Homo sapiens: one gene and its partner. The protein of the gene in region 1 purifies or fractionates together with the protein of each later gene. This does not show direct contact. Each region holds a gene or a part of one and is shown on either strand. Other genes may lie near its edges.

The links.
Region 2: the proteins of TINAGL1 (region 1) and RIOK1 purify together in Homo sapiens (affinity purification with mass spectrometry; 3 studies listed by BioGRID and IntAct, with this or other methods). This does not show direct contact.

Annotation. Positions count from the first base shown.
Region 1 is NC_000001.11:31,571,931-31,579,524, reverse strand, and holds the start of TINAGL1 (tubulointerstitial nephritis antigen-like isoform 1 precursor), read right to left. Parts: upstream 3,011-7,594; 5' UTR 2,930-3,010; intron 2,392-2,929; 5' UTR 2,377-2,391; coding exon 2,067-2,376; intron 1,682-2,066; exon of another isoform or gene 1,628-1,681; intron 1,381-1,627; exon of another isoform or gene 1,337-1,380; intron 322-1,336; coding exon 258-321; intron 1-257. UniProt on the Homo sapiens protein: May be implicated in the adrenocortical zonation and in mechanisms for repressing the CYP11B1 gene expression in adrenocortical cells. This is a non catalytic peptidase C1 family protein.
Region 2 is NC_000006.12:7,413,808-7,418,580, forward strand, and holds the end of RIOK1 (serine/threonine-protein kinase RIO1), read left to right. Parts: intron 1-430; coding exon 431-583; intron 584-3,523; coding exon 3,524-3,634; 3' UTR 3,635-4,230; downstream 4,231-4,773. UniProt on the Homo sapiens protein: Involved in the final steps of cytoplasmic maturation of the 40S ribosomal subunit. Involved in processing of 18S-E pre-rRNA to the mature 18S rRNA. Required for the recycling of NOB1 and PNO1 from the late 40S precursor.

The DNA.
Region 1 (7,594 bases):
GTGGGGAAGGATCTCAGTTCAAGGGTGACCCCTGGGCCAGGCACCCATGGCTGGCCATGCTTGAGGAATGTTGTTGGAATGATGTTAGATAAGTTGACTTGGTCAGTGTTAAAATTCCTCTATTGCAGATGAGGAAACTGAGGTTCAAAGAAGGGAAAAGACTTCTCCCTTGCAAAAGGGGTCAGGGATAAGATTTGAACCAAGTCTGTCAGCCACAGGCTCACAAAGCAAGACCCCTCTAAGCTCCAAACACTCACCAACGGTTACAGTTGTCCCAGTACGTTCCCAAGACTGGATAGATACGACCTCCATGCATACATCCTGTTGGAAGGGAAGAGAAGAGAAGTGGAACCAGAACCAGAGAGGATGGGCTAATTGGCCAGGTCCTTGGAGGTCAGGTACCTTGAACCTTTCCAAGATTCTCTCTCTTTCTCTCTCTCTGTCTCACACACACACACACATACCAGCTCTCACTGAAATTAAACTATAACTGAAGACATCACACACACACACACACACACACACCAGCTGTCACTAAAATTAAACTATAACTGAAGGCATCACACACACACACACACACATACCAGCTCTCACTGAAATTGAAGCCAAACTATAACTGAAGATATCACACACACACACACACACACCAGCTCTCACTGAGATTAAGCTATAACTGAAGACATCACACACACACACACCAGCTCTCACTGAAATTAAACTATAACTGAAGACATCACACACACACACACCAGCTCTCACTGAAATTAAACTATAACTGAAGACATCACACACACACACACACACCAGCTCTCACTGAGATTAAGCTATAACTGAAGACATCACACACACACACACACACACACACACCAGCTCTCACTGAAATTAAACTATAACTGAAGACATCACACACACACACACCAGCTCTCACTGAAATTAAGCTATACTGAAGACAACACACACACACACACACACCAGCTCTCACTGAAATTAAGCTATAACTGAAGACATCACACACACACACACACATACCAGCTCTCACTGAAATTAAACTATAACTGAAGACATCACACACACACACACACACACACACCAGCTGTCACTAAAATTAAACTATAACTGAAGGCATCACACACACACACACACACATACCAGCTCTCACTGAAATTGAAGCCAAACTATAACTGAAGATATCACACACACACACACACACACCAGCTCTCACTGAAATTAAGCTATAACTGAAGACATCACACACACACACACACACACACACACACACACCAGCTCTCACTGAAATTAAACTATAACTGAAGACAAATCCTGCAGGGTCACACACCAACTGCTGTTTGGGAAGTTCTTCAATGATTCCAACCTGGATTCCTCTTACTTTACTTGGATGCCAGCCACAACATTCCTGGGATCCTTTTCCATTTAAATAAGTTAGGGCTTGGAGATGGGGAGTGGGAGGAGCATGGGGAAGCCAAGGCCCAGAGAAGGTAAGCAACCGTCCTAAGATAACACAGCACTCTTGAGATGACAGCTCAGGTATGCAGTCTGCCGGCCCAAGCCCCATGGAACTGTGGGAAGGAACGCAAGTGATTCTCCTATTGGACAGGGGCAAGTGCATGGAAAAGGATGATGGTGAGGCTGAAAGCAGGAAAAGATTTGACCCATCTCCCAGGTATGAGCAGCCATCTCGGGGCACAGGATCCTAGAATCCTCAGCAAAGGCAGAAAAATGGCTAAGATGACCCTCACCAACCCATATGTGCCTTATCAGCCCAAGAGTGAGTCAGCAGGTGCGGCCAGCACCTTCCGTGTCTGGAAAAGAGACAGGATTGGGAGAAAATGTGGGAGGTTGCCCTTTCCCTGGGCCAAATTAGAATTCTAACCAAGGAGCTTCTTCAGTCTTGCTGGAGAGTAAAGTTCCCAGAGGGGCAGGGAAGAGTCCCAGATTCTACAGAGCTTCCCCTGGAAATGTCAGTGCATCCATCAGCTTTGCTCTTGAGCCTTGCTGAGTCTGAGGTGGACAAAGTGACCCACCCTCCTGGCCATCTTAGTGCCCACCTTGGATCGGGGGAAAAGGGGGTGGCACGCCGAGGCAGAAGTCCCAGAAGTCAGGGCAGCAGTCGGAGACCGTGCGGTTGCAGAAGAGGTCACAGTAACAGATGGCGCCCAGGTAGGGCAGGGCACAGTCGTCGGCACGGCCGCGGCAGCACAGGTCCTGCTCCTGGCAGTACCGGCCTCCCGCGTCCCGGATGCCCCGCAGGTGCAGACCCGGTGCTAGCTCCCGGCGCCCACGACCCTGCTGGGCACCCAGAGCCAAGTGGCCAGCCAGCGGCAGCAACAGCAGTAGCCCCAGTGGACATCGCCACATGGTGGCTCCTGGGCCCTGGGGGGCAGAGATGGTGGGCAGCAGAGACTCCCTGGAACACCAGGGATGAGTCTCCCAGTTTCCTGGAGCTGTGAGTTCAAGAGGGCCCAGCAGGGAGGGAGATCCCGATTCCTGAGTCCCCAGGCAGGACACGGGCAGAGGAGCCCCAGTGTGTGGGCCCTGGCTATAGGGGGATGGGGACTGGGCAGAAACGGAGCCCCTCCCTGACCTAGGCAGGGACCTTCAAGGACAAGGAAATGAGGGTGGTGGCATTCTTGGTGCTCCCACCCAACACTCATCCTGTGGACCCAAGGTCTTCTCTCCTGTCCTAGGTCTCTCTGCCCTCCAGCAGCCTCCATCCCTGACCTGGGTCCTTGACTTTGTGCTTTCCTGTCTCCCCCGGTCTTTTGGGTACACCTCTCTTCTGTTCCTGTGTCCCTCTGTCCCCCTCCACTGTCCCTCTCTCTGCCATCTGTCTTGGTTCCTCTACCTGCCCCCTCCCCCTGTTTCTTCTCTGTCTACACCTTCCGCCCTCTGAGCAGGGGAGCGTCCCTACCTGGTGAAGGTGTGGGCTGGGGCCCAGGCTGGCCCGCGCGCCTCCGCCTCCTGGCTCTGCGACCGCCGGACGCTCAAAGTCAAGAGAGGAGCGCGGGGCGGGGCGCTTTTTGTACCGCCCGCCCTCTGCACCGCCCCAGCAGTGGCGGAAGGGAGGGGCGCCTGGCTTGTACCTGGAGTAACTACCCCACAACTCATGGGCTTGCAGGGTGGAGAAACGACAAGCACACGATTGTCCTGGCTGGGTCTCCTGTGGCGGAAGCCGTTCCCTTAGGGGAACCCCAAGCAGGAAGGATTGCGGTTTCACACTGGGAAGGACTTCACAGTGGGCATCCCTGTGGAGCTGAGGGGCTCTGGTGGAGAAGGGGGGATATGGGCAGCCGAGCTCTGGGTTATGGACACAAGTTTGGGAAATGATGGGGAGGGCATGTGAGGCAAAATTCTGTAAGCCTCTCCTGACCCCTCGGTAATAAAAATAGCCATGCACACCCCTCTCCACTGTGCCCCCTAGGCTTGGGTGCCGCCCCCCTAGCCACCCCAGCTCCTAGGAATGATTGGAATTCCAGGAGTATGATCCTTAGGTGCCCTGGGCGGCTCATCCCTGGGAGGTGGGCAGGGTGTGGGGGTGGCCTCTGCACCCTTTGATCCCTTGTTGAGTCTGCCTTCCCTTGCCTGCTTGGGCCCCTAGACGAGCACTGCCCTCTCTAGCAAACCCAAGGGCATCCTGCTTGGCACCTGTCCCCCTCCAAGGGTCCAAAGGCAAGGGCCCTACCAGCTGGCACCCCCTGCAGAGGCCCTCCTTCCTGCCGCAGGCATAAACCTTTCTTTGCCCAGGCTGGCCTGGGACCCAAACAATGGGGCTTCTGTCCCGCCAGGTCTGCCGTCACCTTTTACCTCCCTATTGTGCAACGCCCTCTCTTCAACAGGTTGGGCCCAGGCCAGAGGTCTCTACCAGCAAAGAGGATAAAAGAGACTACACCTGGACAAACCCTCCCAGGCCCAGGCCTGAGCCTCACATGTGGCCCCGGGGAAGGCATCAGGGACTCCCTTTGCCCTCCCACTGACCTCCCTGCAAACCTCCCCCAAACCAAGGGGCATCCTCAGCTGGCCAGACCCTGGGGGAAGGGAGAGAGCCGAGGATCACCGGCACCTGTGGCTGGGTTACCCCTGCCATGGACCACTGGGTGGTGAGTCACCAAGGGGGTCCTGCCCTGGTGGTGGGGGTGGAGGGATAATATCCGGGGGCCCCAGCACTGGCACTAACACACCCAGGAGCTGCCCATCTGCTCCCTGCAGGGACCTGGGAGGACAAAGCCTAGGTGGGAAACTGAGGCTCAGAAGAATGCACTTGCCTGAGGTCGTGCAGCCAGAACACAGGCTCCCTGCCTGCCACCAGCCCACTCCTTTACCCCTAGTCACCCTTAGTCACCCACTACAGGTCTCAACGTGCTCCTGGTTGGGAAGTCTCTTTTCTTATCTAAACTCCATTCATCTTACTGCAGGACGGGCCCCTCGGTATTGGTAAATGTCATATCCTCAGGGTAAGAGATGAAAGCTGCTTTCTTTCAAAAGAGTTCGTGTCCAGAGTTCCTACTTTTATGGTACCTACTTTTTCATGGTTCTGGGGCTGGGGGCTTGTTTAGAGACATCTGGCCTCTCTTTTGCCCAAAATCACACCGCATAGGCTACCCTCGTGAGTCTGGGTGTGTTATCTCTGTGTGCATGTATGCATGTGTATATCTGAGTTGCGGTGTTTGTGGGGGTGTTTCTGCTTCTGCTTGAGTCTGTCAGTCCACATCTGATCGTCTGGGTTTTTTTTGCTTTTTGTTTTTTGTTTTTTTTTGAGACAAGGTCTCACTTTGTCACCCAGGCTGGAGTACAGTGGCGCGATCTCGACTCACTGAAGCCTTGACCTCCTGGGCTCAAGTAATCCTCCCACCTCAGCTTCCTGAGTAACTGGGACTACAGGTGCACACCGCCATGCCTGCCTGAATTTTTTTTGTATTTGTAGTAGAGATGGGGTTTCACCATGTTGCCCAGGCTGGTCTCCAACTCCTGAGCTCAAGCAATCCGCCTGCCTTGGCCTTCCGAAGTGTGTTTACCTGTCTATCTGCTATGTGCCTGTGTATCTGTGAGTCTGGATATTTTGGCTATCTGCCTGTCCTTGTCTGACTGATTGTCTGCTTGTCTATCCATTTACCTGTCCATCTGCTACATACCTGTGCATCTGTGTGTGTGTATCTGTCTGGATGTTGTCTCTGTGTCCATTATGGATCTGTCTGTCTGCCAGCGTGTGTTGTTTGCCTGCATTTGTGCACTTGTTGGCTTGTATGTCTGTGTGTGTGTCCTGCCTGTGCCTCCCTGTCTAAGAGGTGTCTGTGTATCTGTGTGGGAGTTGTGGCCATCTGCCTGTCCTTGTCTGCCTGCCTGTCTGTGCATAAGAGGCAGGGACTCAGAGCAGGGGATGGGAGCAGAGCCAGAGCCTCCCACCATCACTCAGCTTGGCACAGAGCCCGCCCCAGTGGAATTTTGTGACTCACTGGGTTCCTTGGCCGAGGAGGAAAAGGGCAGGGCCGGGGGTGCTGGACACCCCCACTTTCCTTTTCCATGACCCTTTGACCCTTTGCCTCCTAGTGACTCCTAGTGACTCATTGACTTATTATTATTTTTTTTGATGGAGTCTCGCTCTGTCGCCCAGGCTGGAGTGCAGTGGCGTGATCTCAGCTCACTGCAAGCTCTGCCTCCTGGGTTCAAGCCATTCTCCTGCCTCAGCCTCCTGAGTAGCTGGGACTACAGGCACCCACAACCAGGCCCAGCTAATTTTTTGTATTTTTTTTTTAGTAGAGATGAGGTTTCACCATGTTAGCCAGGATGGTCTCGATCTCCTGACCTTGTGATCCGCCCGCCTCAGCCTCCCAAAGTGCTGGGATTACAGGCATGAGCCACCATGCCTGGCCGACTCAATGACTTATTCTTGAGCAAAGTGGGGCCTTATCCAAGGGCCTGGGACAGAGCAGCAGAGGAGGAGACACCAGCGAGACTTCCCCCTCTGAGCCCTTCCGGCTTTTCAAGAGGCAGGTAGCCTAGGTCCCTGTGGTGGTTTTGTCCTCCCTTACTCCGGACCCCCGGCAGCGCAGCCCCTCTCTGGGCGTTGGTACCAACCTGTACCCAGATGCTCCCTGGAGGCCCTCTGGTATTCTCTTACTTTTACAGAGGGAGGTGAAGCCAGAAAGGGACAGTGACAAGCCTAAGAACACACGGCAGAGCAGAGGGCTCTCCTCTCTATGGAGTCCCAGAGCTCCCCACACCCCACAAACTTCACAACTGCTCTAAATGCTCGGAATCAGCCATTCTCCTCTGTGAGCTGAGCAGGGCTTTCTGGGAAGACAAAGACCTGTTGTCTGCTCACCTCAGGTCCCTAGCCGAGGACCTGATACTTGAGGCCTGGGAGTTCAGATGCTCAGGGCCCAAACAGCACCCCATCCAAGGCTGGGGCTCCTTGTGGTTCCCTGTGGTCAGTGGGACATGTCCAGAGCTCAGGTCAGTGCTCCCTGGGACTGCATCTGAGACCCTGTCCAGGCCTAATACTGTAGCCGGTTGGGCCATGTTGTGATATGTTGGGGCTTCCCAGGGCTCATGGACTGTTTTGTAGAAAGTCCCACATCAAGGGCTGCATGACAGTCAGAGTGTGGTGCTGTCATAGCACGCTGGAGCTTGCAGCAGACAAAATTCCAGGCCATGTGGAAGTGTGTTGCGCCACGCAATGGCATGCTTTACTATTTGATTTTCTCATTCATTCAACAAATACTTGTTAAGCATTTACGATGTGCCAGGTTCTGTGCTAGGTGCTGAGTGTACATTGTTGAACCAAACAGATGGAGTTCCTGCTATTGTGGAGTTTGCAGTCTAATGGGAAGAGAGGCCAGGCATGGCGGCTCATGCCTGTAATCCCAGCAGTTTGGGAGCCTAAGGCAGGTGGATTGCTTCAGCTCAGGGGTTTGAGATCAGCCTGGGCAACATGGTGTAACCCTGTCTCTACCAAAAATTAAAAAAATTGCCTGGGTATGGTGGCATGTACCTATGGCCCCAGCTACTCAGGAGGCTGAGGTGGGAGGATTGCTTGAGCCCAGGAGGCAGAGGTGGCAGTGAGCTGAGATTGTGCCACTGCACTCCAGCCTGGGTGACAAAGTGAGATTCCATCTCAAATAATGATGATGATAATAATAATAATAATAACAACGGGAAGATAGACAAATACATAAGCAAACCATCCCCCCGCCCCCCCACCCACAGATCAAGAAGTCATTCCAAAATGTGAAGCGTTCTGAAGATATGCACATAGCGTAAGAACCTGGTGTAATGTGCTGGTCAAGGCGGTCTCAGAGAGGAGATGACGTTTGAGCTGACACCTGAGGGATGAGAAGAAAGCAGCCATTCCCAGGGCCCAGGGGAGGCATCCCAGGAAGCCGGATCAGCATGAGCAAAAGCCCTGAGGCCTGGCACAAGTTGGTCTGCTTGAGAAGCAGGAGAGAGCCCTGAGCATCCGGAGTGCAGCAAGCGAGGTGCACAGAGGAGCAGGAAGGGGCTGGGAGAAGGCTGGGGCCGGATCATGCAGGACAGGCTGGAGGAAGGGGCTTGAATTGTCTTCTGACCACTGAGGGGATAT
Region 2 (4,773 bases), on another chromosome or scaffold:
TCACATATTGTTTTCCCTCCCAATTGGATTAGTTTATTGCTAGAAATGTGGTTCACAGGAAAACAGCTGTGAAGTTATCCATATAAATCTTCATTTTCTACCTCTATGTATATTTTGCCTCTTTCCCAATCCCAACTAAATGCTCCTGATTAGCTGAAAGAAGGAGAACAGCTCTGTTGTTGATCTAGGTCACGCAGTAAAGCCCTGGTTCCTTCATTTGAGTATGTTCTGGAGCCTTACTTGGAGTGGCTACTTTCATGTTTCCCTCCTGATGTTCATTCTGGTGTTTTGATGTTTCAGTACAGGATGTTAGTTTTTAACATATATTTGCGAGCCTAAAATCTGAATTCTGGCATTAACACATTTAACAACAACACATAACTTGGTTTGTGTGTTGTTTAGAATAACATGGTTCTTTAATAATTTCAAGGTCCCTGCACTCCTAGAAAATCAAGTGGAGGAAAGGACTTGTTCTGATTCAGAAGATATTGGAAGCTCTGAGTGCTCTGACACAGACTCTGAAGAGCAGGGAGACCATGCCCGCCCCAAGAAACACACCACGGACCCTGACATTGATAAAAAAGTAAGCAATGAAATACCTTCCCCTTTTCTTTAGTGTGGGAGCACAGCCGCTCTTATTTCTCTTTGCTCAAGGATCTAGCTAGATTATGATGGCTGAAAACATTATTGATAAGTACCTCTAATTACAGTTTTAATACCTAAGTGTGAACTTGACTTTTGGTGGTAACATTATCTTGAGATTGGGCTGCTCATCAGAGCACCTTGGGCATTGCCTAGAGAGAGCACGCACTAAATTCAGTACATTTCACATGAAGTACAAGTGATGTTAGAGTTGACCCAGGGTAAATACTGAAGAGCCATTTCAGGGGGATTTATAGCCCAGCTTGATGTTTCTGGAATCTGAAAGACCATATAATAGTCCCCCCATCCATGCTTTCAGTTTCTACTGTTTCAGTTCCCTGCAGTCAGCCTTGGTTTGCAAATATTAAATGGAAAATTCCAGAAGTAAACAATTTATAAGTTTTAAATTGCTCACCGTCCTAAGTAGTGTGATGAAATTCATGCTGTCCTCCTCCATCCTGCCTGGAATGTGAATCATCACGTGGTCCAGCGTCTTCACACTGTCGACACTCCCCACCCGTTAGTCACTTAGTAGCCTTCTTGGCTATCAGTTCAGCTGCTGTGATGTTGTGGTGCTTGTGTGCAAGTAACCCTTACTTTGCTTAATAATGACCGTAAATTACAGGAGTAGTGATGTTGGAATTTCAGGTATGCTTTAGAGAAGCCATAAAATGCTTCCTTTAAGTGGAAAGGTGACCATTCTTGACTTAACAAGGAACTCATGCCTGTAATCCTAGCACTTTGGGAGGCCAAGGAGGGCGGATCACTCCAGACCAGTCTGGGCAATAGAGTGATACCCCGTCTCTATTAAAACATTGGTGATGAGCACCTGTAGTCCCAAATACTTGGGAGGCTAAGGCAAGAGGATCCCTTGAGTCCAGAAGTTTGAGGTTCTAGTGAGCTGATCATGCCACTGCACGCCAGCCTGGGTGACAGAGTGAGATTCTGTCTCAAAAAAATAAATAAAAGGAAAAGAATCATATGCTGAAGTTGCTGGTGAGAATCTTTTATCCGTGACATTGTGGAGAAGGAAAAAGATGTTTGTGCTGGTTTTGCTGTCTCACCCCAAACTGCAAAACTTAGGACCATAGCATGTGATAACTGCTTAGTTAAGATGGAAAAGGCATGAAATTTGTGGGTGAAAGACGTAAACAAAAACATCTTCCAGTTGATGGCACCATGTTGCACCAGAAAGCACTGAGCCTATACGAAGGTTTCAAAGGTTTCAGCAAGGGTTCCCCTGAAATGAGTGCCACCAGGCCATTTACTGTAAGGAATAGTTACACAGATTCAGGAATAGGTTTGGACTAAAAAATAGAAAAATTACCAGAGAGGCTGCATCTGCCAATGAAGAAGCTACTGTCACATGAGTATGATACTGTGGGATATTTGGAGAGAGAGACCACATTCAAATAACTTTTACTATAGTATATTGTTACCATTCTGTTATTAGTTATTATCTCTTACTGTGCCTAATTTATAAATTAAACCTCATCATAGGTACGTATGTATAGGTAGAAGCATAGTATATATAGGGTTTGGCACTATCCACAGTCTTAAGCATCCACTGGGAGTCTTGGAACATATCCCCCATGGATAAGAAGGGACTCTTGTATTTCTTTAATCCCTAGCCATAGACATAGAGACACTGCTGACTGAGTGCTATGTGACTATTATTATTCCATCTTAGTCTAATCCTTTAAACCTTATACAATGTGGGTCCCAAGACTTCTGAGGGACATACTCAGCTGCTAGCATATTTTCTCATATGTCTACTAGAAACACATATTTTGTCTCTTTCCAATGTCTATTTCTGTTAGAATATGGAACTTGTAAAGAAAAGTATTTGCAAACATTTAATAACATTCTTAGGGATATTTCTGTTTGGCTGTCTTCACATTTCTATTAAGGAAGCTCAGCTGGGCGCGGTGGCTCACGCCTGTAATCCCATCACTTTGGGAGGCCAAGGCAGGTGGATCACGAGGTCAGGAGATCGAGACCATCCTGGCTAACATGGTGAAACCCTATCTCTACTAAAAATACAAAAAATTAGCCGGGCGTGGTGGCAGGCGCCTGTAGTCCCAGCTCCTTGGGAGGCTGAGGCAGGAGAATGGCGTGAACCCAGGAGGCGGAGCTTGCAGTGAGCCGAGATCACGCCACTGCATGCCAGCCTGGGCGACAGAGACTCCGTCTCAAAAAAAAAAAAAAAAAGAGGAAGCTCAAGGCCGGTTATGGTGGCTCATGCCTGTAGTCTCAGCTACTGGGGAGGTTGAGGCAAGAGGATTGCTTGAGCCCAGGAGCTTGAGGCTGCAGTGCACAATGGTCATGCCACTGCCCTCCTGCCTGGGTGACAGAGTGAGTCCCTGTCTCTAAAAAGAAAAAACTGAAAGACAGTTTTCACCCCAAGTTCCTCCACCAACCCATAATCATTTTCTTTTCTTTTCTTTACATTACACTCACTTTTATTCTTCTATGTGTGTATTTTATTTAGTTATAATCATAATAATACTCCAGGTGGGTGCAGTGGCTCATGCCTGTAATCTCAGCATTTTGGGAGATCAAGGTGGGTGGATCACTTGAGCCCAGGAGGTCGAGACCAGCCTGTGCAATCTGGCGAAGCCCCATCTCTACCAAAAAATACCCCAAAAAAACCTAGCCAGGTGTGGTGGTGCACACCTGTTGTCCCAGCTACCCAGGAGGCTGAGGTGGGAGGATTGCTTGAGCCCAGGAGGTGGAGGCTGAAGTGAACCATGGTCACGCCACTGACTCCAGCCTGGGCGACAGAGCAAGACCCTGTCTAAAAAACAAAAAACAAAAAACAAAAACAAAAAATGCATACTCCAAATGAATGAAAGTTGGCTTTTTTGTTTGTTTTTTACAGGAAAGAAAAAAGATGGTCAAGGAAGCCCAGAGAGAGAAAAGAAAAAACAAAATTCCTAAACATGTGAAAAAAAGAAAGGAGAAGACAGCCAAGACGAAAAAAGGCAAATAGAATGAGAACCATATTATGTACAGTCATTTTCCTCAGTTCCTTTTCTCGCCTGAACTCTTAAGCTGCATCTGGAAGATGGCTTATTGGTTTTAACCAGATTGTCATCGTGGCACTGTCTGTGAAGACGGATTCAAATGTTTTCATGTAACTATGTAAAAAGCTCTAAGCTCTAGAGTCTAGATCCAGTCACTGACTCTGTCTGGTGTTGACAGAGGATTTATTTAAGCTATTATTTTAATAAAGAACTTTGTACATTTTTATTTTTATATTTTTTTCTCTTACAAATATGTTTTTGGAAGCATGATAAATGTTTAAATGTAGTCAACATCTGTAACTCTTACATGAGTGTCCAGAGGCACTCATGGGAAAATTGGTTTTGCTTTCTTTGTACACACCAGAGACCCATCTGAGGTCATCTGATTATAAGGCCATGTTTATATAAAGGGAATTTCACCCACAGTTCAGCTGGCTGTTGATTTTCACTGCAACTCTGCCTTTGTGTGTATTGGCGATCATTTGTAATGCTCTTACACTTCGTCTTTAATGTTCTTTTTGGAGTTAGGACCTCTCAGTTCATAAAGTTTTTTACAATTCAATCATTTGGCATATTCATTCATTCATCAAAAATTTGAGTATTTTAGTTGCTGGGGATACAGCAGAAAACAAACTAGACAAAAATTACTACCTTTGAGTAGTTTACATTTTGATAGGAAGATAAGACATTAACCAAAGTAAGTAAAAAGCAGTGTATCAGCAGGTGATAAATTCTATGGAGAGAAATAATGCAGAGATGAGAGGGCGCCTATAGATGAAAGAGTTTGCAGTTTAAAATAGGGTTCTTGGAAAGGCCTTACTGAGGGCTGATATTTGAGCAAATACTTGAAGAAGGTGAATTGTTTGCATAACAAGAAGGAAGAACATGCCAGGCAGAACAACCAGCAGTTGCAAAGCCCTGAGGCAGGAGTGTACGTGACATCTTCCAGAAACAGGGCTGAGACATCATCATCAAGGGAGAAAGTAGTAGATGCAATCAGATAGTGTACGGCTGTGGGAGGGTTTTGGCAGGGGAGTGATATGATCTGACTTCTGTTTTAAAAGGATTACTCTGGCCTCTGTGGAGAATTGATCAGGAAGCAAGG